4 linked regions of the Homo sapiens genome follow. The protein of the gene in region 3 interacts with the protein of the main gene of each other region in a pairwise test. Each region holds a gene or a part of one and is shown on either strand. Other genes may lie near its edges.

Region 1 (7,996 bases), on a different chromosome or scaffold from region 3:
TCAGCTGGTAACTCATCATCAGCTGCTAGACTCAGACTAAAAAGCAGAACCAATGATACCAGCTAAAAACACCAGGCCTAAAATAGTATCTAGGACAACACTGGCAGAACTAAAAGAAACAGAACGAGGAAGAAATTTGGGTGGGGCATAGAGCAAATGAGTTCAATTTCACACAGAATGATTTTGAGGTGCTTAAGGGGTTATCCAATGGAGTTTTCTAGCAAGTGGTAAACTGTAGCATAGAGTTTAAAACAGCATCAAAGCTAGAGTGGTTGTCAAACCCACAGGATTCACAAAGAATAAGTAGAACCTTGGCTGAACATTGGAATTACCAAGAATGTTTCAAAACAAACAACAAGGCCGGGCGCGTGGTTCAGGCCTATAATCCTAGCACTTTGGGAGGCTGAGGCGGGTGGATCGCCTGAGGTCAAGAGTTCGAGACCAGCCTGGTGAACATGGTAAAACCTCGTCTCTACTAAAAATACAAAAATTACCCAGGCGTGGTGCCGGGCGCCTGTAATCCCAGCTACTTAGGAGACTGAGGCAGGAGAATCACTTGAAACCAGAAGGCAGAGGTTGCAGTGAGCCGAGATCCCGCCATTGCATTCCAACCTGGGCAACAGAGCAAAAACTCCGTCTCAAAAACAAAAACAAACAAACAAAAAAACCTGATGCCTGGGCCCCAATTCCAGAGACTCTGATTTAATTGGTTTGCTGGCCTTTGAGTTTTAAAAATTTCTCGGGTTGTTCTTAGGTACAACCCAGTATGAGAATCAGTGGTATAAAGAAAAAAGAGACCCAACAGATCCATGCGAAGCACCTAACTTAGGGATCAGAATGAGAAACAAAAGCAAAAAGAACTAGAGGAGGGAAGAGAGGGATGGTTAATAACATTAAATGCTGCAGAAAAATTCAGGCTCATGAGAGCTAAAACAGGTCTTTCATTTGTCACCCCAGCCAGCTGTAAGAAAGCAGTTTCAGTAGAGAGTGCGTGCGCTGAAGCCAGCTTGCAAAAGGGGAAGCAAGTAGGAACTGAAAATGTCTTCCTAGGGCCTTAGCTGGGAAGGGAGGGACATGAAAAGGACAATGACTTTATAAGGAAGCTAGAACAATGACAAGGATAAGGGCAACTTTGAGGAGAGAAATTGAAAATATAAGTTGGGAGGAGCGGAGACTGGTAAAATAAGCAGAAGGGAGTGGGATCAAATATTTAGAAGTCTCAGTTGGCCTTGGAGAAGACAAGATTTCTTTCTTACTCTGAGGCTGGAGAAAGAGATGAAGGAAAGGAGAACAATAAAGAGAAATGGTGAGGTAGAAAGGAAAGAAGCAGAATTTTACATAGAATGTGCTTGAGGTTCTCAAATCTGAAGTTTTGTTTTATTATTTATCACACAAAATTATATGTAATCAGAAATGCAACTGGGAAAAACAAGAACAAATTCTATTTTCTCTTTAATTTGCTCCTGGGCTTGTCACTTGATTAGAAACAGAATTTTGCCAAACATGACGGCTCATGCCTGTAATCCCAGCACTTTGGGAGGCTGAGGCAAGTGGATCACCCACCTGAGTTCAGGAGTTCAAGACCAGCCTGGCCAACATGGCAAAAACCCGTCTCTACTAAAAATACAAAAATGAGCCGGGTGTGGTGGCATGTGCCTGTAATCACAGCTACTCAGGAGGCTGAGGTAGGAGAATCACTTGAACCCAGGAGGCTGAGGCTGCAGTGGGCCAAAATTGTGTCACTGCACTCTAGCCTGGGTGACAGAAGAGACTCTGTCTCAAAAAAAAAAAAAAAAGAAAGAAAGAAGCAGAATTGGAAAACATAGGCAAGAAAGTCGACAAAGCTTCTCTTTCACAGAGCTGTGTTATCATGGGACTTAGGGAAACAGAGTTTTCTGAAAAGGAATTTTCTGCCTCTCATACTAGGCTTTCTCCCCATAAGGCTCATTTAATTGTATTATATTCTTTATATGCCACTAAACCCTGAAATTAAATATCATCCTTATTAAATTTCTCTAGTTTTCTAGTTTCTAGATTTGAGAGGTTTGGCTTTACTTCTTTAAAAAGAAAGAAGGGCCGGGTGTGGTGGCTCATGCCTGTAATCCCAGCCTTTGGGAGGCCGAGACAGGCAAATCACTTGAGCTCAGGAGTCCAAGACCAGCCTGGGTAACATAGCAAAACCTCATCTCTACAAAAAAATACAAAAATTAGCTGGGCATGGTGGTGCATGCCTATGGTCCCAGTCAGTCAGGAGGCTGAGGTGGGAGGATGGCTTGAGCCCTGGAGGTGGATGGAGGCTGCAGTGAGCAGTGATTGCACCACTGCACTCCAGCCTGATTACCAGAGTGAGACCCTGTCTCAAAAAAAAAAAAAAAAAAAAAAAAATTTAAAAGAAAGTTCTCCTCATATTACTCCCCACACTAACATTCTTCCACAGCACTGCACTATTAAAATTCTTCATTTATATTTAAAACCTTCAGTATCCAACTGCATCCCACTACCTAGAACAATGTTCAACCACATCTTCACATTTAACCACAAACCCTATCCTATAGCCCCATCTATCTGTCATTTCCTATCTTCTTACCTCCATGCTTTTAAGTTTCCTCTTAGTATGCCCTCTGACCCTCTACATATCTAGATCCTAATTATTCTTTGAGGCCCAACTCAAGTGGCTCCTTCTCTTTATTTCAAAGTCTTTCTAGATCCCCTCAGTCAGAGACTAGTATCTCCCTTTCTCTGAATTTCTGTATCTCTTATTCAGTCTACAGCCTTCTATTACATACTCTATTTTTGCATATATGGGTTTCCTTCAATATCAGTTTGAAGACTAGAGTCACTCTCTTCCAAAGTTGTATCTCCAGTGCCCTACCATCCCTAGATTATGTGGACAGAGATCTGGCAGGACAGGGATGTGGTCTGCTTTGTGGAGATCATTTTACTCACAATTATCATCTGCCTGGAGGCTGATTAGGTAAGTCCTGCCTCTAGTAAGAGAGGTCAACCAAATTAGCTCCCAGAGTATTTCCTAACCCTGGCTTCCTTCTACTGGCCTATAATCCTTACTTGAATTATATTTGTATTCTATGGTTAGATCTCTCAATATTATATCCAGTCTTTTCGGTTTTCAAAAACAATACAACATAATTAAAAAAACAAACAAACAAAAAGTTGTAAGGCAATTGTGAAGTGGTGGAAAGTGCATTACGGTTAGAACCAGTAGGCACAGCCTTTGCTTTTTGGCTCTGTTCCTTACTGGCAGTGTGACCTCCAGGTAGTTCTTTAACCTTTGTTTCCTCATTTGTACAATAAAGATGGCCCCAAGGGTTAAACAGAAAATATTTAATATGCAACATGGAAGAGTGTGTATGTGTGTGTGTGCGTTATGTGTGTGTACACAAGGCCTTGCTACAAGAAGCCAATCTCGTTCTCTTCTTTCGGGGACCTCTGCTTACTGACTTTGCCGGATAGAGTGGCTGTGACCTTGGGCCAGTCCCCAACTCGACTGTCACCCACAAGCGCCCTCAGCGGTAGCAAGAGTGCGTGTCCAGGAGCTAGAGAACGAGGCTCTAGTAGTGCAATCAGGCCAGCTTTGCTTCCTAACCAGGCACCCTAGACTTGTGGTCTCCCCACAAGTCTTGGAATGGTTACTAAGACGTAGGCCACACGTGGAGAATGAAGCTTTTAAGACCTCTGGGTTCGGCTTGCCCCAGGTTTACGAAGAGCCCAGTTCCCAGAAAGACCCACACCCCCCACGTGACTTAGGACCCCGAAGAAAGCGCCTGCTACGCCCCGGACAAGATCTGGCCAAAAACAAACAAACAAACAAACAAAAAAAAAGGTCTCCCCTCCCAGCCCTCAGGTGAGGCCATCATCCCCGCACCCCTCAGCTCCGGCCTGCACCTATAACGCCAAATGCTGTGCTGGGTAAAATTAATTACCATAAACTTCTAGCGCTTTCTCTTCCATGATCCGGGGCTGCCGGGCAGCTCCCGGCTCAGAGAGGCCGGAGAGCCACAGGACTCTGCTCAGCGTCCAGGAGAGCAGCCCGGACACCCGCTGCATCTTCACGCTCAGCCATCCCTGGCGACTGTCCCAATCGCGCCACCGTCTCTCAGCAGCCTCGGGATTGATCAACTTCCTGGTCTTCAAATGGGCCGAGACAAGCCTAAAGGTTCAGGAGAGCAGAGAAAAGGCGGGGCCAGACGGAGTAGCTCGAAGGACCTAGGGAAGGGGCCTCAAGGACTACAAGTTCCAGCGTGCTTTGCTCGATTTCGGCGGGACAAAAACAATCTTCGCGGCTCGTCAGCACATTGCATGCTGGGATGCGTGAGCTATTTTCTTCGGAAGGCAGCGAATTGTATTCTGGGACTTGTAGTGTCCGCCTGGTAGAAGTGGATGTAACGGTCTGTTAACCGCGACTGACTCACTCAGTATCCGTGATAAGTTAAAGATGAATCCTGAAGGGGTAGGGGAAAGGAGATCTTGAGTTCTCCAGCACGGAGACTCTTTACAATTATTTCTCCGCGGGATCCGCTGACAGCCAACGTCTTTCTTACTTCCTGATCGGACAGGAAGTAGGTTTCAGTTGCTGTGAAAAGGGATGTCATGGGAAGCCAGTGAGGTAGTCAGGTATGGCATGGGGAGGGCTTTTTGGCTTTCTCGTCTCCTAAGGGACTCAGTCCAGCACAGCTTCCCACCTTTGAACGAATATTTCTGCTAATGGCCTCCAAAGACAACTTAGAACATAAGTTTTCCCGTGTCTAATGTGTACAGTGGTGACATAATGGAGATCGCCATCCTTAAAAGTGTATCTTGGCCGGGCGCGATGGCTCACGCCTATAATCCCAGCACTTTGGGAGGCCGAGGCGGGCGGATCACCTGAGGTCAGGAGTTCGAGACCAGCCTGGCCAACATGGGCAAACCCCGTCTCTACTAAAAAATACAAAAATTAGCTGGGCGTGGTGGCAGGGGCCTTAATCCCAGCTACTTGGGAGGCAGAGGCAGGAGAATCGTTTGAACTCAGGAGGCAGAGGTTGCAGTGAACCAAGATCGAGCCATTGCACTCAAGCCTGGGGGAGAAGAGCGAGACTTCCCTCAAAAAAAAAAAAAAAAAAAAAAGTGTATCTTAAGCCCTCTGGTGTTCGTGGGTGTGATGGATGCCAGTAACAAAATCGATTTTATTTTATCCATCCATCCCTCCGATCAAATTTGTAGGTACTAATTTGCCATAGGTGATCCATAGGCATGGAAGATACAAAGATAAAACGCTGCCCCCGCCTTCAAACAGCTCACATGACCTGTGAGGGAGTCCATCCCTGAATTTGCAGTTACAACCAAACTAACTAAACCTCTTGTCAAAGTTGGTGACAAATGCCATTTCTATTGAGAAGATAGGATTATCTTGCAGAATTGTCCCATGCTAACATGCCCATTTATCTTTAAACTCCAGTCTTGTTTGTCTAGTTAATGTAGGCCTTAGGATCACCAGACAATGAATTGCTTAGGTCCCAAGGAAATTTTGGTCAGGGTTCAATAATTTCCCTGCCGTCTATTCCACTCCACTTACTCCACAGCAATTGAGAGGATAATCCTAACATTTTTCCAGCCAAATCTAGGACACTGAGGCCTCACTTCATCTGTGAGGCCTCCCTACTTCTCCAAGCAGAATTGATTATCTCTTTCCCTGTGCTCCCACAGGGCACCATAGCATTGAACATGTCGAACTGTCGATTAAATACCTGATTTCTGTATCTGAAACTCACAGCAAGGTGCCAGGCATACAGTAGATGCTCAGTATCTGTATTTCTTAATGAATTAACTGAATGTTGCTCAAGGAATAAGTGGTGAAGCTTTCTTCTAGTCTTGTTCAGATACCTCAATCGAAATATTTATTGACTCTCTGTGAGGGCATTGTGCTTGGCATGGGTAGATGGCATGTAGAGGTTTTCAAACATTTTAGTGACACTCCTTCATTCAGACGAACTCTTAGAAGCCTGTTGGATAAAGCTATCCAGAGCACAAAGGGCCCTAGAAACCTGAGCAGCCCCTAACTCCTACTTTTCTGCCCCTTTGGCCCCACTCGTTAATATCTCAGCATCGCGAACCAGGCCTCGGATTTGCTGCGCAGCCTCAGCTGGCCGGGTGCCGCCCCGCCCCCAGCGCCTAAGCCCCGCCCCTAGGTCTCCGCCCCTCGGATCCCACGGGGTCCCTTGCGGCCCTCCCACTCCTCGCACCGTTGGATCGCTTTGCTCACGGCGCTATCTCTCGATAAAGTTGTTGTTGCGGCTTCCGCCGCGGGTGGAAGAAGATGGCGTCGGGTGGTGGTGGCTGTAGCGCTTCGGAGAGACTGCCTCCGCCCTTCCCCGGCCTGGAGCCGGAGTCCGAGGGGGCGGCCGGGGGATCAGAACCCGAGGCTGGGGACAGCGACACCGAGGGGGAGGACATTTTCACCGGCGCCGCGGTGGTCGTGAGTTTGCACCCCTCGGGGTAGCAGGCGGGAGGGCACCCCGAAAGGGAAGAGAGGCTAAGCGAGAATCGGGGAGGTTGGGCAGAGTGGGCCCGGTGAGACCTTGCCTCGGTGTCAGCAGTCCGGGCCCCGGGGACCCTGGATGTGCTCGAAGCGGTAGAGCTTGGCTTCCCGGCCCCCAGGCGGGAAGAGTAAAGAATGAGGGTTGTGGTGCCTTCGTCGGCTAGCTCCCTAACAGCCGAGAACCGCCGACGCCGTCCTTTGACCCTGCAGTGTGGTGACACTCCACGGATCCACGGGGTTATTTTGCAGGTCGTGTCCTGCCAAGGCAGATTCAGTAGGACGGAATAAGCGAATGGGATGCAGACCTTTCCCCCGTCTTACTGCTTCTAAGATGAATAGCGTTATGTGGACTAGCCTGGGGTGGTGACCCGCCCACCAGTTCTTTCTTTAGCCCAGCATTTACCGATAATAACCAAAGGCCCTTTCTGGATCTTAGTTTACAAAAGTTATGTTGATTCTTCTGATCTCTAGGAAAATCAGGCCAGAGGCTGGTGGACAGAAGGCACTGCCAGATAAATCACTACATAGATCAGAAAGCTTTCTCCTTTTTAAAGGGATGTGTTCAAGTGCCCACGTACCTCACTGGGAGCAAATCTGAAATGTGATGAGGAAATGGTGTTTCCCGTAATGTTACCGGTAGGAGGCCCTTGAGTGTAGGTTGTCGAGGTTCTTGGCATTTTGAACAAATAATTGGACAAAACGCACAAAATAACAAAGGAATGAAACACAAACGAAGCAGCGAAAGCAGGAATTTATTAAAGCGAGAAAGCACCCCACAGGGTGTGAGTGGGCCGGAGCAAGGGGCTCAAGAGCCCACTTACAAAGTTTTCTGGATTTTAAGTGCTCCTTTTATGGTTCCTATGGGTTACCCCTTATCTGGATGAAGGATTTGGTCTGTGGCTAAAGGCCGAGGTGAATTGGCGTCCTGTGCAGATGAACGGATGGTCCCTGCTTGGCCTGCGGCCAGTCTAAGGCACTCTCCCTTTCCATGTGAGACGTGGTGGATGGGGAGGGTTGCAGGGATAGTAGCCTTTGATCCTTTGCCACTCGGGCGTGGGCAGATGGGTTTTTTCCTTTTGGTTTAGCTTTAGGAAGTTGGCCTTAATTGGCCTTAGGTTCCCTGCCCCCAAACCCAGGGGGTTCCTTTTGGGAATTCAGCTTTGGGAAGTCAGCACGAATTGGCCTTAGATTCCTTGCCCCCAGACCTTGGTGTTTTCTCTTTTAGAAAGTTAACGTAAGTTGACCTCAGATTCCCTGCCCCCAAACCTTGGTGTTTTTCCTTGATTCAGCATGAATTGCCCTTAAGTTCCCTGCCTCCAGACCCTATTCTCCTGCCTCAGTAATAAATATCCGGGTCTCTAATAAGAGTTAGGTATTAGAAAAAAATAATCTTTGTAATGTGGAAATCAGTAATCAGTTATGGAACCAGTAGAGATGTTTTGGGCTATTTTATGAGAATATTTA
Region 2 (7,737 bases), on a different chromosome or scaffold from region 3:
TTATCAATCTTTTCATCTGACAATACTTTGAAATATATCATTGTCATCTAGAGTTGTTTGATAGATTATCTGCAGGCACACAGCCTTTTTCAAGGTCAAGTTGAAGATTCTTGTTTGCTGTTTAACTGGGTTGTTTCAAAACTCAGAACAATGCCTGCCTGTTAAATTTTCACTTGTTCTCATGGGGCATTCGAAAGCAAGTTTTCCTATTGACCAGGTCTCTGGACATTTCATCCTCTTGAGCTAAATTCAGCAAACAAGGCTTAGGAATGAAATCAACAGAAGAAGAAATGAGATTTAACTTAGCATTTGCAAATGCCAGAGAGATTAAGTCGTCTTTCATATCTGCTCAAAGTGTGTACTAATTTTTGTCTGCATGTTGCAGGCTGGTTATGGCCAAACACATCTCAACTTTGACTTTATTCCAGTGGGAAGCAGTGAACACACTCCCCTAAACCAGAAAGGCAAAGAAATTGTGGCCACTCTTGTTTTTGCCAGTGCATAACCTGTTGTTCTAAAGGCATTTTAAAATAAAGTCAGCTACTTCTAAGTCACTATGTTTTATAGACATATTTATTTCTATTTTTTAGTGGAAAGACTGGCTTCACAGTTTTCTCTATATCTGCGATGATTGATTTTTTTTATTCAACTAACTTTTATTTACCTTGCAATAATGTTCTGGACCAATGTGATAAATTACAGATATGCAAATTTCTTTCAATGGTGTTGTAAGTGTGTCTAGCTGGAGCTGAATAACTCCTTGCAAGTCAGTCTGTGCGTGCTCAGGACCCCAGGGAGCTGATCAAAGCACCCATTCTCTTTCATCCCCGGTATTCTCCTCCAAACTATTTCGATACAATATGTTTCCATGATGCACTTAATGTGCTAGGGACATAGAACTCATTACAACCTAGCTAGTTCTGCGGACCTCTTTGTTCCGCGGCAGAAAGTCAAAGAAAAAAGGAAAAGCGCTGCCAGTTGCCAGCTTTCTGAAATGCTAAAGCATGCGTCATTTTTCACCAGGTCTCGTCTTGATATCCTCAAAAGACAAACTATGAAACCGGCCTCAGCCCTTTCTGGCATTAATTACACTGCTGTCCAGCCGATCTGTTTTTCCTATTATATGCATTTCTCAGCAGGGATTTTTTTTTTTTTTTTGTAAGACTAATGCAGCTGCAAGTTAAACTATGAATGCATTTTCATCACTATGGGAAAAAAATAAGTAAAAAAGTAAAAAGGCTGCAAAACATACAGCAAAACTTTTGAAGGACTTCTGATGGACAACAGATATAGGGCAGGACCTGGGTGGTTTGCAATTTCTCCCAACCTGAAATTGGCTGAGAGCCTCAGAAATTTCCAATACATCCAGGGTTCTGTGGAGACCTTTATTGTGCCATTTGAAACTTTGCTTTGGTACCCAGATAAATCTTGAAGGTTCAAGTTTCTATTAAAGTTCTGAAATGAAGCAGTTTGATATCACACCCAACCAGGAGGCTGCTTCCAAGGAATTTCTGTCCAGGACGATGGCACAGAGAATACAAATTTTATTTCATTTCCTCTGTTTCTTGTAGGGTTGATTGGTTGGTGGAAATGGCTGGCAGCCAGTTCTGGGAAAGATTCCAGACCTGACTCCGATTAACCCTCTCTGGTGAAACTCTGCTGGAAACCAACTCACCAGCAATTGCCATTAATCTACTTACTAATTAAGCCAATTCATTTCTAAAGGAGAAAAATTCCTTTCTTTAGCCAAACTGATGGGAGGAAATTTGAAAGAAGCGCCAAACTGTGTAACTGTAATTCAGCCAAGGACTGCTAAAACAAGGTGTTGATATATAGCAGCAGATTTAAAACAAGTTTCTAGGGCAACACTCCTTTGGAGACAGCGGCATATAGTGCATAGTAGATGAAGCTCGAATAACGCTCCACAGCGCTATACCATCCCATGTACTTGCGTTGAAAAGAACACGTCTCTCTCCAATTAAATCTTGTTCCTTTTACGCACAAATAAATCACCTCTGCAGCTTTCTTTTGAACTAAAGTATATCAGCTTTATGTGACAACTACCACAAATATATTTCCTGAGACTTAATAAATAACTGTAGAATTCTGTAATCCAGAGCCTACGATTCAGATACAGGCTCTTAACAAGGCCTTACTTGTAGTTAGGGGAATAGAAAGAACCAAGTTGGACATTACGCATGGAAGAAAAGCAAACCCGCCTTTTGGTAAACGGTGTCTGGCATTCCAGCAGAATCTTGGTTTGCATCCTTACCAGGAAGCAAAACTCCAAAGAGTTTCCCTACTTACTAAAGAATTTCTGACAGCCTTTAAGATGCGGCTAGGTGCCCTGTGCCGGGGTAAGATAAGAATGAATCTTGCTTGAGGAAATGTACGATCTCCCTGTAGTCTTCATGACCTACCTTCATGGGGACTAGTTATTGGGTGAGGAGACAGCAAAACAGGTTGATGCTTTTGGTATAGAAAGACTGGATTAGAGAGGGAGTCAAACTTTTTAATTAAAGTCCGTCCCTTCCCACTCTTAGACGCCTGGGCTCTTCTGAGTCCCCGGAGCTCCTGAATGGATGTGGTTGCCCCGGAGGTTCAGTGCGCCCCGCTCACCCAGCACCAGCCAGGGCTTTCCTTAAAGGCGTGGAAAGGAGCGCGCACAAGGCGCGCATTGAGGTCTATTCGAGCGCAGTGCTGGTTAATATACATAATCTGGAGAGATTAAACAATTAGTTTAGAAAATCCTTGGAGATAGTATCCTTTCCGAGGGAGGCACCTTACACCAGGACGGCGAGGCCACTCTTTCTGAGGCCCCGTCTGCGCAGCCCAGGCTTCTGCTGGGTTAATCAACAGTCTCTGCGGGGCTGCTCTGGCGCATGGAGGGCTCCTCCAAGGACTCTTCTTTTGGGGATTCCGACAACTTCCCTAAACGTGAAGAAAGGTGGACAGACATAAACTTTGTTTTACTTATCATACACAGACCACTTCCCACTCTTCCCCCAAAGCATTTTGCGTCATTTTTTTTAGTGGGTCTTCCCAGCCCTGGCCCTAGCTGAGAGCCTCTTCAGGAACCTGGAAGAGAGACGGTGAAGGAGGTAGGGCAGGCAGGCAGATTATCCTTGGCCTTCCAGACAGCGTGTGCCAGCCAAGCTTTGCTCTGAGACAGTCTGGGGCTCTCCGGCAGCCCCAGGCTGCAGGAATGGTCTCAGGTGCCCCTGATAAAGGCCAGTACTCAACATTCTACTTGAAGCCGTTGTAGCAGAATAAAAAAAGTGGGAAGAGTTGTCTGTGTTTGGGCCCAGGGATTTGATTTTTCCAAGTTTTAAATTTCCATTTGCCTTGCAATGGAAATAGACGGGGCCTGTGAAATAGAAAATTATGAATGAGAAGGAAAGGAAACCACATTGGCCCTGGGCTCTGAAACTGGGGAATGGGAAGATGTCCCCACCCCCTAACCTCAACGTTGGGCTCTCTGCCCTGTGGGGAGGAACATTTACCTGGTGCGTAAATTGTGAGGAAAGCGTTGGGGGTCTGAGACAGGAAAGCCACAACATGGGATGTGATGTTCCAGCTTTGAAGGGGAACAAAGGCCCTGGGCTAATCCCAGTGAAAGCCGGGAGCGTGGAGAAGGCAACAAAGCATTGCAGCCTGCGGTCACCGGTAGGTGTCAATGTGGACACTTATAGCCGGGGCAGTGGGAGAGGGGAACACAGAGGAGCCAGGCTGTCATTCCAAGGCTTAACATGAACAAAGATAAAAACGTGACAACCTCGGCTTTCAATGGTTGGGAGGTTCAAAGTGGAGTGCTCCAGAGCCTATCTGGGTCAAGTCTTTTCTGCAGAAGGGCCTTTCTTTTTCTAGTCAAGTATCAACCAGGAAAGCCCCAAGGGCCTTTTCCCAAGGTAACTTTTCTTACTCAAAGCTTTCTTTAAAGTAATGTCCAATGCTACACACTGCCATAAAGATACAGAGCTTGTGAGATGCCTGGAAATAGCATAAAGGGCATTGTTTTCTGCATCCCAGAAACTCCAGGAGGCTGCATTCAGCCCTTATGAACTTGAACAGGCTACCTAAACTTTCTGGATAAGCTTCGTGTATTCTTTTGCACATTTAATGAAAAGAAATGAAATTTCTTTTTATAAAACTATGCATACATGTAGATGAGTCAATGGGTTCCATAATTTAGAAAAGTACTCATCTTACAAAGAAGTTCTGGTAGTACAATGTTGAAGGAATAGTGGAAACTTGCTAGAGTTAAGTATACTGGAGATTTTAGTCTATTAGAAATCAGCAGACGAGGAATTTACCAACAAATAAATGTCCTGAACAATCTGGGAAAGATAATTAAGAATCTTCTACTAATACAACCCATTAACAAAGATTATCTTAGAAAATCAATAAATGGACATGATAAATTATGTTTATATGAATAACTCAGAAACATTGCTTTTTAAAAAATTTTAACACTAAAACCAAAATACAACTCAAAAAATCATAAGGTAATAAAATTCTTATTTTCTTTAGTTGAAGTAAGTCTCCTAAATAATAAAAAAAGGATGTAAATATCCTTAAAAGACTAATGACATTTCACAGGTAATGCAATTTAGAAAGAAACACTTCCATGTTTTCTTTTCTAACAATGTGCATTTTTGTAAACTGCTATAAATTGCAATTCAAAAGCACTGATCTCGCCATCCCCAATCATTTTTTATACTGATCAAATGAATGCAGATACTCCCATTTGGGAGGGGCAACATGACATTTCACTTGGCAGTTCTAAACAGGTCACAGACCTTTCACAGACCCTAAGGCAGTGGGAGGGAGCTCTTTACTAAACCGTGTAACCAAATCAAACCAATGGTTACCCCTTTTCAAAACCAATGGAATGGTTTGCACAATGCTATTCACATAGCAGTACAGAAACTGAAAGGATGGTCATCCAATGGAAATTTCTTTCCTTTTGTTTAAACTTGCAGAGCTCAAAAAGTAATACTTGAGGGAAAACAATTACATGTGCTGTGATAAAAATAATAAAAAATACACATGCATTTTTGTTGGCACCACAGGGCTCAGCTGTAACTGTCCATTTGTATGTATATATATGCACATGTATATATGTATATGCATGTATATTTATTGAAGATGTTGCTTTGTTTGAAATCTTCGGCACAAAGACACAACAATGCTGCCCTGGAGATGACCTATTGCTTTCAAGTTGCTTGAACACATCAGAATTTCCATTGTTAGGGTTGATTAATTGAAACTGATAAGTTACCATGAATAAAGATTGTTTTTCTGTTTAATGTGGTGGGCCTGATTTGGTAAATGCCTCATTCATGTAGCTTTGCAGTGCAGCATATGGGTAAAAGTCATTCAGTATCACAAACATATACAATTTATTATGCTTGTATGGGCACAGCCAAAGCCCTTTCTATTTTAATGACAAAGTTTCAATGAAAAATTTCATTTAAAGAGTCACTAGTTACATGAAGTGTGAGTTTATAATTTATTATTAGAGTTTCTAGCTCTTTCTGTGGATAATTTAAAAGATATAATATTTTAATATAGTTTAAAAAAGATGTATATCTCCAAGTTATGCCTCAGCATTAGTCATTGGAAAAAAAGCAGAATCTATCTTAAATGTTAGCAGACACACATGAAGAGAAAGCACTGTCATCTGATGCCACCTCTGTGCCATACTCTTGATAAAGTTACTACAAATGTTTCATTGCAAGGCCACCAATTACAGCTCACACTGCCCAGTTTACGAGAAAATGCAAAGGAGCTTGTTTGGTGAATAACATGCCAACTTCCTAAAGGCTTTTTTTTTTTTTTTGTCTTAATGAATGAAGTCAGAAGACAACATTTTGAAAATAATTTAGGGACTATCACATGAAAAATCCCAGTGGACTTATTAATGTCCACACAATTTAATTACTGTGAACTTCCTTTACTGGAAAGCTGATGTCACTTTGAAAAGAGTTAACTACATTAAAAATGATCACAAATATTTACCAATAAAGGGAAGGTTGCTAATTTTTTAGAATGACGCTGTACAAAAACTTTTATTTTTTGCCTTTTTCATTTAGGTTGCTCAGGTAGTAATGAAAAATATGAAAGGCATGCTAATGAACTAATGAATCGACTGTACTAAACCATCAAAGAGATAGTTACCGTATTCAGCCTTTAACGTCTCATCAAATAAATTCTCTGGTCATTCATGTCCATGAAACAGTTCAAGTTCATCCAACATTTCTCAATTAAATTAGATGGGTGATTTCAGTTCAGCCCTTCTGGAGAGTAATAAACCACATCGGTCACAGTTGACCACAGCTAGCATGTGTTTAATAAAGGGCTGGATGTCCATTGGAAAGCTAATCAGTACACCGGCACTTGTAAAATTCCCTCCTGCATTTTGAAGTGATAATCTGTATCTAATTTTTAAAGAAAAATTTACTTTCCTTTCACTCTTCTGAGGCCAATTTCTTTTCTGGACCTGAATAGAGATCATTGGTGAAACGGCACCAAATAGCTTTGGTATGTGTACAACAAAAACCCACCTCTGTGTAGAACATAACAAATTATGCAATGTTCACAGATGCGCTTCACATTGTGCCTTTTGTGAGAAAATGAAGGCCCAACTCTATTCCCCACCCCCCTCTTTATGAAAGACCGGGCTGCCAATGCAATCTGTTCTAATCCTAGAGAAAAATAAACACTCTTAATATGGAAGCGTTAGGTAGTTGTCTCTAAAAGGATTTTCATTCGAACGTTTGGTCTATGCAATTTTTGCACGTACGAATTTGAAATTACAAGCAGCTAGTTTTTCTTATGAACAGGTGAACAATTTGGAGCCTAAGGATTGAAATGTTAAATGCTCTCGTAACTCACCTGTAACTCACCTTGACATCTGCATATTTAGTGGAAATGCTGTTATCACACAGTTTCATGCGTGAATTTATAGGTTCCCAAAGAAATGCAGTAATATTTCAGTCACAGTTTTAAAAACATACACACTGAAAATATTTAAAATTTTGTTTCTGTATCTTGGTTTCTGATTATTCTTATGGGAAAAGTGGTTATTAATATATAATTCTGAAGAGCAAGGTAGCGATTTCCGCAGAAATGGTGAAAAATGCAGACAGACCTCAGGAGGCCCACCTTACCTCATGGGACTTCCACAAATCCTGGTCTGACTTTTACAGAATGTGCTAGTCATTGAGTGACTGTCTTAGAACATAAATTCCAGGCACTGAGAAAAATCTCTATATCCTCAGTGCCTCGCCTAGGCCTTTGCTTAGGTTTTCATAAAGTCTGTGGAATGAATGAGTGAATGGATTAACAAAGAGAAGGTAAAACCTAGAAGGCTAAGTAGTGTGTTCCACTTGTTATCCACAGCCTTTGCAGTTCCCTCACACATTGACTCTGGTCTTGGCCCTGTGACTTGCTTTGGCTAATGGGATAAGAGCAAATGTGACCCCAGCGGAGACTTGAACAATCCTTGTGCATTGGAGCCTGCTCTCTTGCTGCTCTGGAGAACCCTGAGAGTGCCATGAAAGCAAGCTTGGCTTAGCCTACTTGATAGTGAGGGACATGAGGTCTGGTTACCCCTGTCACCCCAGCAGACAGCCAGCATAAGTCCATCAATGACCAGCTGAACACAGAAGCTCAGCGAGACCAGGCAGAAGACCCACCACCTAGATGAAGGCATGTGTACAGGCACAGGTGCTT
Region 3 (8,135 bases):
CAATTTAGTGAGCCTCCTTTTTCCTTCTAATAAATCCTCTTTCTGCTTAAGACAGCCAGAATTAACTTATATGGCTTGTAAAAAGAACTCTGACAAAAATTCCTGGATAGAATTTCACTGGGTCCAGAAATCTGAACTTAATTAAAGTACCTAGCTATTCTACCTTTATTCTGATCATCTTTGTTATTATAACCAAGACTCAGTGGTCACTTACTATATGTCAATTATTTTCTAAGTTTTTTGTAGGCATCACCATATTGAATAGTCACTGAATTGCACTGAATTATAGAACCACTGAAGTTGATGCTATCATTACTCCCTTTCTATAGTTTAAGAAATTGAAGCTCGGAGAAATCATGATGCCCAAGATGACCAGCAAATACGAATAGAAGTGATATGCACTCAGGCAATCCAAGATCAAAGTCAGCATTCTTACTAACTACATTATACACTGACTCTTTTAAAAACCTTTTCTAGGCTGGGCGCAGTGGCTTATACCTGTAACTCCAGCACTTTGGGAGCCCGAGGCAGGCAGATGGCTTGAGGTCAGGAGTTCCAGAGCAGCCTGGCCAACATGGTAAAACCCCGCCTCTACTAAAAATACAAAATTAGCCAGGCATGGTGGTGTGTGTCTAATCCCAGCTACTTGGGAGGCTGGGGCAGGAGAATCGCTTGAACCTGGGAGGCAGAGGTTGCAGTGAGCCGAGATCACACCACTGCACTCCAGCCTGGGTGACAGAGCAAGACTCTGTCTAAAAAAAAAAAAAAAAAAAAAAAAAAACTTTTTAAATCTTTTCTATTGTGAAATATAACGCAAATGTAGAAGAGTACACAAAAGTGTATACCTCAATAAATTATCACAAACACCACCCAGGCCAAGAAATAGAACACTTCTAACACTCCAGAAGCACCACTCATGACCTTCCCAATCATTACCTGATCCTTTCCTCCTTAAGGTAAGAAAACCACTATCCCAACTATGGACATTATTTCCTTGCTTTCTTTATAGCTGGGCCACCTAAGTAAGCATTCCTAAACACTGTTGCTTCACTGGGCCTGTTTTCTGAATTCCATATAAAGGAAAATGAAAAAGAATGTTTTCTTTTGGGTCTTGCTTATTTCAGTCATTATTTTGATTGATGCATCCATCAAAATCTGCATCAAAAAATGCACCCATGTAATTGTAGGTAGGTTTGTTAACTTTCTTTCTTTTTTTTTTTTTCTGAGACAGAATCTCACTCTTGTTGCCCAGGCTGGAGTGCAATGGTGCAATCTCGGCTCACTGCAACCTCCACCTCCTCGCTTCAAGCGATTCTCCTGCCTCAGCCTCCTGAGCAGCTGGGACTACAGGCGCCCACCACCACGCCCAACTAATTTTTGTATTTTTAGTAGAGACGGGGTTTCACCATGTTGGCCAGGTTGGTCTCAAAATCCTGAGCTCAGGTGATCCGCCTTCCTCAGCCTCCCAGAGTACTGGGATTACAGGCATGGGCCACCGCACCCAGCCAGTTTGTTCACTGTCATTGCTGTACGTTATTCCATGAATCCACCATGAGCTATCTATCTATTGTTGATGATACTTAGGTTAACTCCAGTTTGGGGCTATTATGAATAATGCTGCTATGAATATTCTTGTGTCTTGGCTACAGTGCATACATTTATGTTGGATATAAATGTCAGAATGGAAACGGTTAAGTCATAGAAATTTGAATGTTAAATTTCAGTAGATAATGCCGAACTATTTTCTAAAGGGGTTGTACCAAATATAATGCTACCAGCATTGTAGCATCATTTCATTACTCTGGACCTTCTCTGACACTTGGTCATGTTAAAATTTTTTTGGGGGGCCATTCTGGTAGATGTATGCTAATTTAGTTTGTATTTCACCAATGACTCGTATTTCTTGGCCATTTAAAAATCTTCTTTTGTGAAGTGCCTCTCCAAGTCTCTTGCCAATTTTATTACTGGATTGTCCTTTTTATTATTTATTTATTTATTTATTTATTTTTGAGACGGAGTCTCACTCTGTCACCCAAGTTGGAGTGCAGTGGCATGGTCTCGGCTCACTGCAACCTCCGCCTCCTGGGTTCAAGAGATTCTTCGGCCTCAGCCTCCCTAGTAGCTGGGACTACAGGCACGTGCCACCACACCCAGCTAATTTTTGTATTTTAGTAGAGACAGGGTTTCACCATATTGGCCAGGCTGTTCTCGAACTCCTGACCTCATGATCCGCCCACCTTGGCCTCCCAAAGTGCTGGGATTACAGGCATGAGCCACCAAGCCCAGTCCCTTTTTATTATTTATAGGAGTTTTAGATACAAACCTTTTGTCAGGTATATGTATTATAATTACCTGCTTCCACTCTGTGACATGACTTTTCCCATTTAATGGTGGCCTTTGATGAACCAAAGTACTTTTGTGTACTCAAAATTTATCAAATTTGCCTTCCTTAGTCTTTGTATGTCCTGTCTAAGATGTCTTTCACTATATTGAGATCCGAAAATATTCTCCCATATCCTATAGGTAGGTGCTTATGTACTACCTTTCACATACTGTTCTATAATCTACCGAGTTGATTTTTTGTGTATGATGTGTGAGGTAAAGATTACGTTTCTTTACTTTCCTTTCTCTTAGAATATTCAATTGTCCCAGAAACATTTACCTTACCTTACCCACTGCTCTATGTTAACAATCTTTGTTGCAAAGCAAGTGTCCGTATAAACATGTTTCTAAGCTTTTGATTCTATTCCTAGAGCCTGACTACTCTTTAAAAACTTTAAAATAAGTCTTGATGTTGGATGGAACAAATCTTTCCCTGTTGTCTTATTCAAGAGTGTCTTTGCTATTTGTGGCCTTCTATTTCTATATGTATTTTAGAACCAGCTTGTCAAAGCCACCCAAAAATCCCAATTCATGAACTTAGCTGTTTCTGAAGCTGAGTTGCACTCCCTGCAATGACCTACTTTTAGGGCATGGCCTTTCATGGCCCTAACCCAAAGGAAATGGAGTTCACCAGGCTCCCCCTTGACGGGTCCTGAACACTAATCCATTTCCTGTTACTTTAGTTCAAAGAGGCACTTTTCATGACCTTGTCACTCAGCTTCCCCACTCAGGAATCCAGCATGTACCCTCAGGAGACAAAAGAGCCCCAAAATAGACTCTTGTCCTTGGATCTCTATAGCTCTCACATGGATCACAGCTAGGTAATTCTTCATGATCTTTCTATCTCTCCAGTATCTTCCAGCAGATGTTTATATTTCACCCATATTTTCTAATTGTCCCTGATGAGAGATAATTACCTAGTCTGCTATTACTGAAAACAGAAATCCATATTGCCTATTTACCCATATCAATCTGAATATACCTTAGTGAATAAAATAGAAACAAAAATAGTTCTGCCCTCTGCCAGGCACGGTGGCTCATGCCTGTAAGGGAGGCGGAGGCGGGAGGGCCGAGGCGGGCAGATCACAAGGTCAGGAGTTCGAGACCAACCTGGCCAGCATGGTGAAACCCCATCTCTACTAAAAATACAAAAATTAGCCGGGCGTGGTGGCACATGCCTGTAATCCCAGCTACTCGGGAGGCTGAGGCAGGAGAATCGCTTGAACCCAGAAGGCGGAGGTTGCAGTGAGCCGAGATCACACCACTGCACTCCAGTCAAGGCGACAGAGCGAGACTCCGTTTCAAAAAAAAAAAAAAAAAAAAAATTCTGCCCTCTCTCTGTCATTGATTAATAATATCAGTTTATCTACTATGTCTATCCCCCTTTGGCTTATCCTGTCCTTTGGATCGTAATGAAGACTTCAAAAAGGTTAAATTTTTAGACAGAAATGAAACTAGCACAAAAATAATGAAAGACAGTAGTGGATTTAAAGAATAACAAAATTAATCTCTAAGGAGACTTATAACCTTTTATAAAAAAATTCACTGAGAGAAAAAGGTCTAGAAAATGTCAGTTCCTGATGAGCAGAAACAGAATACAGACCTATAGAAAGGCTCTTATTTAGGATATAGACATAGTGAAGTCTCATGCCAAGTTTGTGTGTGTGTCTATCTATGTACACATATATTTATATATTTTAAAGACTATTTTTATTAACTATTTCTGAATAATTTATCCACATTATTCAAAATTCAAAAAGCATATAAGTATACAGTGAAAAATTTCCTCCCATGTCAGTCCCTACCTCCAAAAGCAATCAATGTTATTTGGTTTTGTGTAGTCTTCCAAAGATGTTTTATGCATATAAAAAAAAGTGTGTGTGTGTGTGTGTGTGTGTATACTTTTTCACTTTTTTACACAAAAAATGGGCATGCTTAGGCGTGGTGGTGCGTGCCTGTAATCCCAGCTACTTGAGAGGCTGATGCAGGAGAATCGCTTGAACCCGGGAGGCGGAGGTTGCAGTGAGCTAAGATCACGCCATTGCACTCCAGCCTGGGCAACAGTGCGAGACTCTGTCTCAGAAAAAAAAAAAGGTCGGGGGGAGCATGCTGGACATACTACTGTGTACTTTGTTCTTTCCACTTATATCTCAAAGACCTTTCCATAACTGCACATGAAAAGCTTCTTCATTCTTTTCTACAGCTGATTAGTATTTCATTGGGTGAATATTCCATAATGTATTACCATTACAAACAATGCCATAATAACCTTGTATCTATGTCATTAAACAGGAGAATAAATAAATCTATAATTCCTGGAAAGAATGAGTCAAAGGGGCATATATTGTAATTCTGATGGATATTGACAAGTTGCCCTCCACAGAATCTGTACCAATTTACAATCTCATTAGCAAAGCATGAGAGTGTCTGCTTCTGCACACCGACCAACAAAGTGAGTTAGCAAACTACCAAGTGTAGTTAGGATTTCCAATTCCCTTATTATGATTTAGGTTGAGCATTTTTCACATGGTAAGCACCACTTCTCATAGCATTTTAACAACTTAATGTATACTGGAAAAAAATATGCTTTTGATTTTTTTTCTTTCCATCCCATAAGGAGTTGAGCTTTTGATTTTTAACTTTAAAGGAATGCCCTAAATTATTTTTAATTTTAAAGAATGCCCTAAATTACATAAGAACTACTGGTAAAACAACTTATAATTGGATTCAGAGAGGCAGGAAGTAAGAAAAGGAGAAAGAAAAACATAACTTTATTTCCAGAAGTATAAAGTGTGGGAGATGCAGCGCTGTTTCAGTGAGAGAGAATTATGAGCACAGCCTTTTAGGTTTCCTGAAGTTCTTCAGTGAAATTTAAGCCACTATGCAGAAGAAAAAGCCAATTTTCCTATAGTATAGCTTTTATTATATTAGCCAAATATAAGCCAATTCTGAAAGTATTCCTAGAAGAGATCAGAGAAATCAGGCCAGACTTTGCAAATTTAGATGGTATGTGGGGAAATGTTTTTTATTTTTAAAAATATGTATTCTAGTATATATTAAGAAAAATGGATATATCAAACTAGTAATATCGTAGGTATTATTTAGAATGAAACTTTTAAGTGTCAATCAAAATGTCAATTAAATGTCAATGTCAAGAAAAAATAGTAAATAACTAATACTGTAACGGTATTCTCCAGTGTGGCAAAGTCATTACCATGGTTCCTCAGTGGCCGAAATCTCGGAAACAATGAACGGAGGAGGAAAAATGGAAGCTTAACAATAACTTAATTTATCATTGATGGCCACTAAAGCAAAGGTGAGAGAGAAAAAAGGAACTTCCTTAAAATAACTTATTTTATATTTGACAACTTTTTAAATGTGCATTTTCTTTCTACATTACCAAAGGGTCTGGTTTCAGACATTCTGATCATGCTAGGGATTCAAACTTACTGTGTACTTCGTACTTTCCCTACAAGGAGAACCAAAAAGCAGGTTTTTTTCAAAAGCATTTGAATATCAGGTCAGGGTTCTTTAGAACAGGCCTCAGAGGATTTCCCCCTCAGTAAACAGGCTGCAAAGAGATAATTAGCCTGTCATTTTAGATTCCAGTGCAGAAGAACTAAAAGCAGGCTATGTGGTTACAGACTCAAGAGGCTTAAACGAAAACAAATTAAGTGAGTTTATGTTCCAACCAAATCTAGTGACCATGTGATCCAATTTCTCTTCAGCCCTTGAGTGGGACATGCTCCTGAGAGGTCACTCAGATTGTGCACCTTTGGTTATACTGTTTAGACTGAATCACGACATGAATAATCAACTATCTGACTAATCGACTATCTGGACACTAAAAACACAACCACTGTAAGAAAAAGAAAGCCACAGGCAGACAAAATGTTAACATTTTGACATAAAACCACAATAGAAAACTAAAAAACATCAAGGCTGTTTGTCATTGACTCCCTATTATTCTTACCATTCAACATGGTAGCCACCAAATTTTGAATTTTAATTCATGCACATTGAAATAGCCACAGATATTATATATATATATATATATATATATATATATATATATATATATATATTTTTTTTTTTTTTTTTTTTTTTTTTTTTTTGAGACAGCGTCTCCCTCTGTCGCCCAGGCTGGAGTGCAGTGGTGCAATCTCGGCTCACTGCAACCTCTGCCTCCTGGGTTCAAGTGATTCTCCTGCCTCAGCCTCCTGAGTAGCTGGGACAGATATGAAATATTTTCATCACTGCAAAAAGACTTATTGTAATATTCTAACTTCTACCTTAGAACCATGAACAAGTTTACCTGACCTGTTTCCATCCTCAACATCTAAATGTATTGATAGCTCTGGGGGACATACACACCAAACTAAGTTCTACTGCTGACTTCAGGATCACAATAGAGTTTTATTTTCCTTTAAACTTAAAAAAAAAACAAAAACAAAAACAAAAAAACCTGCCTTTAAGTGATGCAACAAGTATGCCTCAGATAGTTTCATAATTAAAGAATGATTTATCTCTCCTCTGGGGAACTGAAGAACCCAGGTGCCTCAAATAAAAGACTATTAAAAACAATTACAATGCATAAAACAATAAGAACACCATGACCACTGGAGAGCTTAGTTCATAAGAACATAAATCCTTTCCTTCCTTTTCACCAAAACCTCAGCTAACAAACATGAAGACACTCAATAGGTATTCTCTGCAGAGAACACTTTTAAAAAACAAGTTATGGTTATTCTGGATAATGACACATTCCTGCTTTGAAGGAATAAGATACACCAAAAAACCAAAACCCTTAACTCAACAATACCTGATATGGCTTGGATGTTTGTTCCCTCCAAATCTCACGCTGAAATGTGATTTCCAATGTTAGAGGTGAGGTCTGGTGGGAGGTGACTGGATCGTGGAGATGAATCCCTCATGAATGATTTGGCATCATCCTCTTGATGATAAGTGAGTTCTCACTCAGTTAGTTCACCTGAGATATGGTTGTTTAAAAGAGTCTGGGACCTCCTCCCGTCTCTCTCTCTCTCACTCCCAACTCTCGCCATGTGACATACCTGCTCCCCCTTTCAGTATGATTCTAAGCTTCTTGAGGCCCTCACCAGAAACAGATACCAACACCACACTTCCTGTACACCCTGCAATACCATGAGCCAATTAAAACTCTTTTCTTATAAATTACTCAGTCTCAGGTATTCCAAATGGACTAACAGAACACCTGAATATCCAATTCCATTTCTTACTGCTGTTTTCTCTCTGAAAGGGTGAGAGAAATCTCATTAAATTTCATTCTTTCTTAGAGCTCTATTGCTTACTCATTGTATCATTTTCTAGAGGAAGATGGCAGAAGGATCCAATCAAACGAATTCCAAGTTTAAAGCAGTTTTTTGGGGTTTACGCCCAAGCCTCTGGTCCAGGCCAAATATAGTATTTCCACACTGCTTTGGAAGCCCAGCTTAACTCTAACACAGCGTTCCCAAAAGCAGCACCACTGACATCTGGAGCCAGATACCTCCTTGTTATGGGGATTGCCCTGTGCCTTGCAGGATGTTTAGCAAACATCCCTAGCCTATCCTCACTAGATGTCAGCAATAGCTGCCACCAGTTGTGACGAGCAAAAATGTTTCCAAACATTGCCATGCCCTGGGGATACAAAATCGTACCTGGTTGAAAACCATTGCTCTAACCCAAGGAACATTCTTGGTTATCTCAACCCTAATTCTTCACATTCATTAGAT
Region 4 (7,997 bases), on a different chromosome or scaffold from region 3:
ACCACACAGCTAAAAAGTGCCAGAATCTAGGATGCTAGTCCGGGCATATCAGACCTGAATTTCTATACTCTTAAATTATATGCCACAGCCCTCAGAAATATGCCTGTCTCCTCTGGATTAGGGGCATCCCCTATGCCTAAGAGTCACTATAATTACTTGTGCCCTAAAACTCTCTAGCCTTGTTGCTGTTCAATATGCTATGAAATCCTCTATTCATATATGACTATGAGCACTTGAGATGTGGCTAGTATGAATAGAAATGTGCTCTATGTGTAATTACACATATGAGATTTCAAAGATGTAGTCCAAAAAAGGTAAACTCTCTCATAAATAATTTTTACATTGATTACATGTCAACATGATCATGTTTTGGATATATTGCATTCAATAAAACACATTATTGGTTGGGTGTGGTGGCTCATGCCTGTAATCCCAGCATTTTGGGAGACCGAGGCAGGCGGATCACGAGGTCAGGAGTTCGAGACCAGCCTGACCAACATGGTGAAACCCCGTCTCTACTAAAAATACAAAAATTAGCTGGGTGTGGTGGTGTGCGCCTGTAATCTCGGTTACTCAGGAGGCTGAGGCAGGAGAATTGCTTGAACCCGGGAGGTGGAGTTGCAGTGAGCTGAGATCACACCACTGCACTCCAGCCTGGGCAACTGAGTGAGACTCCGTCTCAAAACAAAACGAAACAAAAATATATTATTACAATTAATTTAACCTTTTTCTGATTCCTACATATTCTATTTTGCATTTGGGCCTTTCCTCCCAAATACATGAGAAAAGAAAATACATCTCCTGATGCTTTCCTTACTGTTGCTCCAGGAAAAACACACCATATGAGAGACATAAATGCTTGCTACAGAGGCCTAATCTAGGCCATGCTTGGGACAAACTCGATGCTGTAGTCACCCTCCTGAGGCTTACTTTCTCCTGGGCATCTAAACTTAAACAATTCCATCCCTCCCTAGCTCTACCCCCTCTGTGAGGCTCTTGTGAGAATGATAATATTACATAAACTGTAGGTGCTCAAACAGTGTTTATTGAATGACTGATGACAGAGGAAACAGTTCTATGTCATTTTATAGATAGCAAAAATAGAGAGGAACTTGGAGTTTTAAGGGAAAGATCCACATTACTGCTCTTCTGCTTCCTCTAGCTCCAGTGATGGTGTTGGCAGTATGTTTGGTGGAGGTGGTGCTGGTGGTGGCGAGGCAGTGGCAGAATCTCTGCTTTCTTTGGTGTTACTCTTGGTAGAAGTAGCAGTGTATGTGATCTGTCCTGGGGTCATAGTGCTGATGGTGGCAGAGTTCATAGGGGTGGCATTTGGAATGATGACAAAGTTGGTATTAGCAAAAAAGCTAGTGCTTTTGATTTGGGGGAGAACAGATAAAATATGTTTTCTTTGTATCACAGCACTAGAATTCTTGGCAGGTTTTAGCATTTCTTGGACGTCTTCATTAAGTACATTTGGTGTTCCATATTGCAGGTAGTTTTTAATCAATTTAACCACTTTTGGTCCAACACAACATTTTTTCATCTTGCATTTCTGTATCTCTTTTTCATCCACATTGCAGTGATCCCTGCATCTCCCCAAACCCATTAAACAGCGTCTCAAGCCAATAAATTCTGTATAAAAAAAGAGAAAGCCATTGAGCCAAGGTTAATAACTAGAGATGATGTTAAAACTGCTAGTGGGAGATGGATAGACTAAGAGAGAGTTTACTCATACTACATTTTAAGCCCAGTGTTTAGGAATGTTGATGAAGGCAAATGGGCAGGCTGAGAGCGTCTCTATGCCCCTCTTGAATCCAAAGTAAATTTCCTGTTTAGTCTGCCTTCCTTGAGTAACTTTAAGAAGCAAAGGGCACGTAGATGATAGAGTAATTATTTGCTTTTAGGATGGAATTTTAGACCTTCAACTTAGCATCTTAGGTACTTGTCAGACATCACTATCCCATCTCCATAATCTTGGGAAATACCAATGAGAGCCAAGTCCATCATAAAACTAATTTAAGAAAGAAGTTCAAAAGAGAATCAATAGAATTTTCAGGAGTCTTATCTTTTCACCAAACTCAGTAGCCCATGACTTCTCTCTTCTCAACAATCACTAGATCTGTGATTCCTGAAGCATGGTGTTCTATCTCTTCTAGCCTCTTTGGACACTCTATCTCTCAGAAGTCTCATTCATTATCCTAGCCTTAACCTCATATCCACCAAGGTAACTTCTGTATTGTTATCTATAATTCTAAATTTCCTGCTCGGCTTAGTACCTTATCTTTATCTGCTGAATGACTTTTCCATCCTAATGTCTCGTGTTTCTTTTTTCTGAATCAAGAAAGCTTTTCTCCCTTGTTCATCTTAATAACCCAATGATTTTCCCTAAATTACAAGAGATTTATGTAGCATCTGCTAATTTTCAAAGCATATTTGCATACATTTCCACATTGTTTTCTCATCAAACGGGAAACAGAAAAATTCTTATATTGGAATCAGCTGCATTGATTAACCCCATTATACTCATGTGAAATTGAAGTTCAAAGTGGTTAAGTGACTTTACCCAAGATGACACAGCCATACTTGCTTATGGTACTACCCTTTTCCTAGGGTCCCAAGATAAAAACATTAGAAGATAAAAACATTAGAAGCATCTTTGACACTTCCACTTTCCCTGCCCCGAAACCCTTTGCTAATTTTTTCAAATAGCTGGATGATTCTTGTATTCTGAAACAAATCTCAGTGCTTCTCCTTTCTTTTCCAAAAACAATGGTTAATCCCCTGGCTTAGCCTTTTGCTATAATGCATTCCTAGATGCCCTTATGGTAGTTTGGGGGTTTTCAGGAAGACAAAGTCTGAGAGAAGCGATAAAGGCTCTGGAAAACCTGAAAGAATTCAAGATGGAGAACACAGGCCTGTTTACTTGATCTTGAAAGGGTTTTTTTTTGAGCATGAGGGAAGAACTTCCTCCTTTCTACACCAAGCACAAACTGATAGGAAACTTTGCTTCAAGAGGTGGTTTCACAGGAAGGGGAACAACACACACTGGGGCCTGTTGGGTGGAGGGAGAGCATCAGGAAAAATAGCTAATGCATCCTGGGCTTAATACCTGGGCGATGGGTTGGTAGGTGCAGCAAATAACCATGACACACATTTACCTATGTAACAAACCGCACATCCTGCACAAGTACCCCAGGACTTTTTTTAAAAAAAAAGGGCTTTTAAGATAGAAATAGAGCTAAAAGGAGGTAGACCTGGGCTTAGTCTTAGCATGATAGACATATACAGGGCAGGAAGGCAGCATTATATTTTGGATAGTTTCTGAATAGACAAAAAATACCCTGCTTTCTCTGTAGCTTCCTGGGTGTTTCCACTGGACACAATCTGGCAGTTGGGGCCTATGAGAATGTATCAGTGCATGACTGATACAATAGGTAAGCTCTTTAGCCATCTTTTTGAACAGCTAATCTTTCAGTCTCCTCTCTTTGGGTTTCCATTGTCATGGGCAGCCAAATCCTTGGTTCCTCTCATCTACCCATCTTAAACTTGGGAATCCACATTACCTGTGTTCACCTGGTACTGTAGCATGAGGCTGGCAAAGATAGGAAAAAGGAGCTTCATGGTTGGGTGCCAGAGAGGAAGCCTTGAATCTGGGTTGATGCTCCTGAGCTCCAGCCTTTATTGGCCTCTTCGTGGCCTTATGCCATGAGCAGTGAAGTGCAGCCAAAGCAGGTTTGTATGCTGCTCGCAGTATAGTTGTGTTTTTTCTGACTCTGTTTGAAAACACCCTTTCTTGAACACCTCTATGCAACAAATTCCTTGCTCTTGATCCTGGAGGAAAACATAAGATAGGTAAGATGAGAAAGAAAGAGCAAGCCCTTTGCATGTGTCTCTCTTTTGCTTTTTTGAGATGGAGTCTCACTCTGTTGCCCAGGCTGGAGTGCAGTGGCGTGATCTCGACTCACTGCAACCTCCGCCTCCCAGGTTCAGGCAATCCTCCTGCCTCAGCCTCCCAAGTAGAGTATCTGGGACTACAGGCATGCACCACCATGCCCAGCTAACTTTTGTATTTTCAGTAGAGACGGGGTTTCACCATGTTGGCCAGGCTGGTCTCAAACTCCTGACCTCAAGTGATCCGCCCACCTTGGCCTCCCAAAGTGCTGGGGTTCCAGGCATGAGCCACCGCACCCAGTCGCATGTCTCTTTCTTAACGTTGGAGTAGGATAAGAGTTAGATATTTGATTCACTGATTGTCAGCCCAGTTATGCTAAGGTTGGCACTTAGTGCATGAGAATTAGAAGAGCTAGAGGAGAGTGAAGATTCTGCCTTGTTTGTACTGGTATGTCCAGTGGCCAGCATGGGTATTGGATCAACATACAAAGTCAGTACGTTTGTTAAACAAGTTCGTGGGAGACAGCTCTTGGCACATCTTTAACTTTTGAGTTTACAATGATTCCCACATCCTTTTAAAGTAGCAACTAAAAAAAAACTTTTTTAACTTCGCGGGTATATGTGCAGGATGTGCTGGTTTGTTACATAGGTAATGTGTGTCATGGGGGTTGGTTGTATAGATTATTTCATCACCCAGCTATTAAGCCTAGTGTCCATTAGTTATTTTTCCTCATCCTCTCCCTCCTCCCACCTTCCACTCTCCAGTAAGCTCCAGTGTGTGTTGTTCCCCTCTGTGTGTCCATGTGTTCTCATCATTTTGCTCCCACCTATAAGTGAGAACATGCAGTATTTGGTTTTCTGTTTCTGCCTTCATTTGCTAAGGATAATGGCCTCCAGCTCCATCCATGTCCCTGCAAAGGACACGATCTCATTCTTTTTTATGGCTGCATAGTATTCCGTGGTATATATGTACCACATTTTCTTTATCCATTCTTTATCCAAATGGCCAAATGATGGGCATTTGGGTTGATTCTATGTCTTTGTTATTGTGAATAGCGCTGCAGTGAACATATGCATGCATGTGTCTTTATAATAGAACCATTTATATTCCTTTGGGCATATACCCAGTAATAGGATTGCTAGGTCAAATGGTATTTCTGACTTTAGGTTTTTGAGGGATTGCCACACTATCTTCCACAATGGTTGAAATAATTAAAAGCAGCAATTTTTATAGTGTACTGCTCAGATTCCTTGGTCGTAGCTGATTGATCCAGGTGTAACAATAGAACCAAGCCTACCAATCAGATGCTTTCCCCTGCTAATTTGGGACATTTCCTAAGAAACTCAGATATTGAAGCTCATTGGCTCTGAATATTATTAATTGTTCAAGTTTCAAGAGTTTCCCTGGTTCCTCGCCTTCCTGAAATTCATGTCTTCTTAGGATTTCATTAGCTACTATAGTATCCAATGACTCCTCAGTTTTGTTTAAATTAACTGTTATTTTTTAAAACAATAAAAGCAAATCTTATGAACTTTCACTTTATGAAATGTATATTTTACTTCTATGAACAAAAATAATCAAGCTTAGGCATATTTACTTACTACTTGTCAATATCAAGAGATGGAATTAACAGCCCTTTGGAATCAGTTAATCCTGAATATCGCATATTAATTGGTTTCTGGTGTTTTAAGATGCATTGAAATAACATTATTCACCTCATTGTGTCTTGCTAGTCCCAAAGCAATAAGAATATGGAAAGTACTGGTACAAAGAGAAGCACAGTTATTATGGAACAAAAAGTTGAGTTAATAAGAATTGGAAAGTTATGAAAAATTAAGTATGTTGCATGTATATATGGAATGAATCTATCAACAGTGTAGCATAATTTTGTAAAAAGACAAATTATTCACATGTGCAAAGTGTTGCATTTATGTGTATCAGTTGGGAAATGAAAAACACTAGCTATTTTCAACAGAAATATTTTTAATACTCAGAATTATGTGCTTATAAACTCTCTACAGAAGCTGACTGTGGGCTTGGTCTCCCAGAATGACTTCCAGAACATTCCAACAAACTGGCCCAGCAGAGAATCTGCTAGTTCTTTCATAGTCAGGAAAGTAGGGTGACAGGATCCCATGATTAGACATGCTGGACTTCAAGAACACACCACGGTAGCTGTAATATAAGAGCAAGGATATTTTTCTGCTGCTTCTACAACTGTCTGTTGAAACCCATAGAGCTAGGGATCAGACATTGGAATGTAGCAGAAAAACTCAACTGAGTTTAAAGATTTAAGATTTAATTTCCCTAACAATTTAGAACTGTCAAATTTTCAATTTCTTCTTGGGTCACATCAAGTAATGTTTATTTCTTCTAAATTTCATTTTTGGCATAAGGTCACTCACAATATGTCCTTTGATCTCTTTACTATCTATAGAGTTTGTAGTGATGGCTACGTGTTTTATTCTTCATATGGGTAATGTGTTTTCAATTTTTTCTTTGTTATTCCTATAGTGAATTAATTAATTGGTCTTTTCAAAATCAGCTTTTGGTTTTGTTGATTCTATGTTTGATTTTTATTTAATTATATTTTATTTTAAATATTATGAAAATTAAAAAATATTTAATTATTTTCTCCTCTCAGCTTTATCTTCCTTTCTTTGAACTTCTTTGAATAAAATTTCATTTTATTCTGTTATTGTTTTCTAACTTATTATTTGTGTTGTTATCTCATACATTTTCAGCTTTTCTTCAGTATAACCAAGTGGGTAAGACTCTAATTTTCCCTTTATATGCAGCTTTAGCTGGACTTCATAAGTTTTTATTTGCAGTGTTTTGTTATCATAATCATTCACTTAAAAATAAACACTTCAATTTCCACTGTGTCATCTTTTCTGACATATGAATTAGTTTGAACCTTGCTATTCACAGTGTGGTGGAAAGACCAGAAGCATCAACACTTCCGGAGAGCTTGTCAGAAATGCAGGATTTCAATTCATCTCAGAATGAGTCAATCAAAATCTGCGTATTAGGAAGATCCTCAGGTGATTTGTATGTACTTTAATATCTGAGAAACATTGGTTGAGAAATGTGTTTCTTATCTGAGCATGTGGGGACATTTTAGTTATGAGGGAACTTCAAACAGTTTGTGGAAGATGACATTAAAATATAAAAATATAAAGATATAAACTTTATTTCTCAACATAAGCTCCATCAAGTTCAAGACACTTTTGTAAGCAATGGTACCAGCCACTTAGTCTATCCCTGAAGGACTGAGCTTCCTGGGAATTTAACCACATCAGTGTTCTTTTACATTATTAACTGAAGAAAAATTGGTGTCCTTTAAAGATTTTTTTTTAAGATTAGGAGATAAAAAGAAGTCAAAAGGAGCCATGTCAGGATGGCAATGTGGATGCCTAATGACTTTCCATCAAAACGCTTGAAAAATTGCCCTTGTTTGACTAGGGGAATGAGCAGGAGCATTGTCATGTTGGAGAAGGACTCTCTGGTGAAGTTTTCCTGGGTATTTTTCAGCTAAAGCTTTGGCTAACTTTCTCAAAACACTCTCATAATAAGCAGATGTTATTGTTCTTTGGCCCTCCAGAAAGTCAACAAGCAAAATGCCTTGTGCACCCCCAAAAATTGTTGACATGACTTTTGTTCTTAACTGGTCAGCTTTTGCTTGGACTGGATCACTTCCATCTCTTTGCTTTGATTTTGCTTTGTCTTCAGGGTCATACTGGTAAAGCCAGATTCCAACTTTTGTTACAGTGCTTTGAATAAATGCTTCAGGATCTTGATCCCACTTGTTTAAAGTTTCATTGAAAGCTGTGCTCTTGTTTGTAGCTGATTTTGGCACAATGGTTTTGGCGCCCATCAAGTGGAAAGTTTGTTCTTCTTTAATTTTTTAGTCAGATTTCCATTAACTGAACCAACTGAGAAGTCTATGATGTTGACAATTGTTTTTACTGTTAATTATCAGTCCTTTTCAACTGGGGCATGAACAAGATTAATTTTTTCCTCCCAAACTGATGTGGGTGGTCTGCTGCTGGTGGCTTCATCTTCAATATTATCTCATCCCTTATTAAAATGAGTTATCCATTTG

Evidence for each region.
Region 1: the proteins of TMED8 (region 3) and CIAO2A interact in binary tests that used the Homo sapiens proteins (3 or more experiments, as listed by UniProt).
Region 2: the proteins of TMED8 (region 3) and C10orf67 interact in binary tests that used the Homo sapiens proteins (3 or more experiments, as listed by UniProt).
Region 4: the proteins of TMED8 (region 3) and DEFB129 interact in binary tests that used the Homo sapiens proteins (3 or more experiments, as listed by UniProt).

The regions. Positions count from the first base shown.
Region 1 is NC_000015.10:64,089,704-64,097,699, forward strand, and holds the start of CIAO2A (cytosolic iron-sulfur assembly component 2A), read right to left. Parts: upstream 4,136-7,996; 5' UTR 4,066-4,135; coding exon 3,942-4,065; intron 613-3,941; exon of another isoform or gene 495-612; intron 1-494. Other genes in the region: SNX1 (sorting nexin-1), read left to right, coding at 6,311-6,469. UniProt on the Homo sapiens protein: Component of the cytosolic iron-sulfur protein assembly (CIA) complex, a multiprotein complex that mediates the incorporation of iron-sulfur cluster into extramitochondrial Fe/S proteins.
Region 2 is NC_000010.11:23,201,325-23,209,061, forward strand, and holds the end of C10orf67 (uncharacterized protein C10orf67, mitochondrial), read right to left. Parts: intron 2,932-7,737; coding exon 2,849-2,931; 3' UTR 1,372-2,848; downstream 1-1,371.
Region 3 is NC_000014.9:77,366,487-77,374,621, forward strand, and holds part of TMED8 (protein TMED8), read right to left. Parts: intron 7,424-8,135; exon of another isoform or gene 7,205-7,423; intron 1-7,204.
Region 4 is NC_000020.11:222,913-230,909, reverse strand, and holds DEFB129 (beta-defensin 129 precursor), read right to left. Parts: upstream 3,653-7,997; 5' UTR 3,622-3,652; coding exon 3,564-3,621; intron 1,633-3,563; coding exon 1,139-1,632; 3' UTR 1,024-1,138; downstream 1-1,023. UniProt on the Homo sapiens protein: Has antibacterial activity.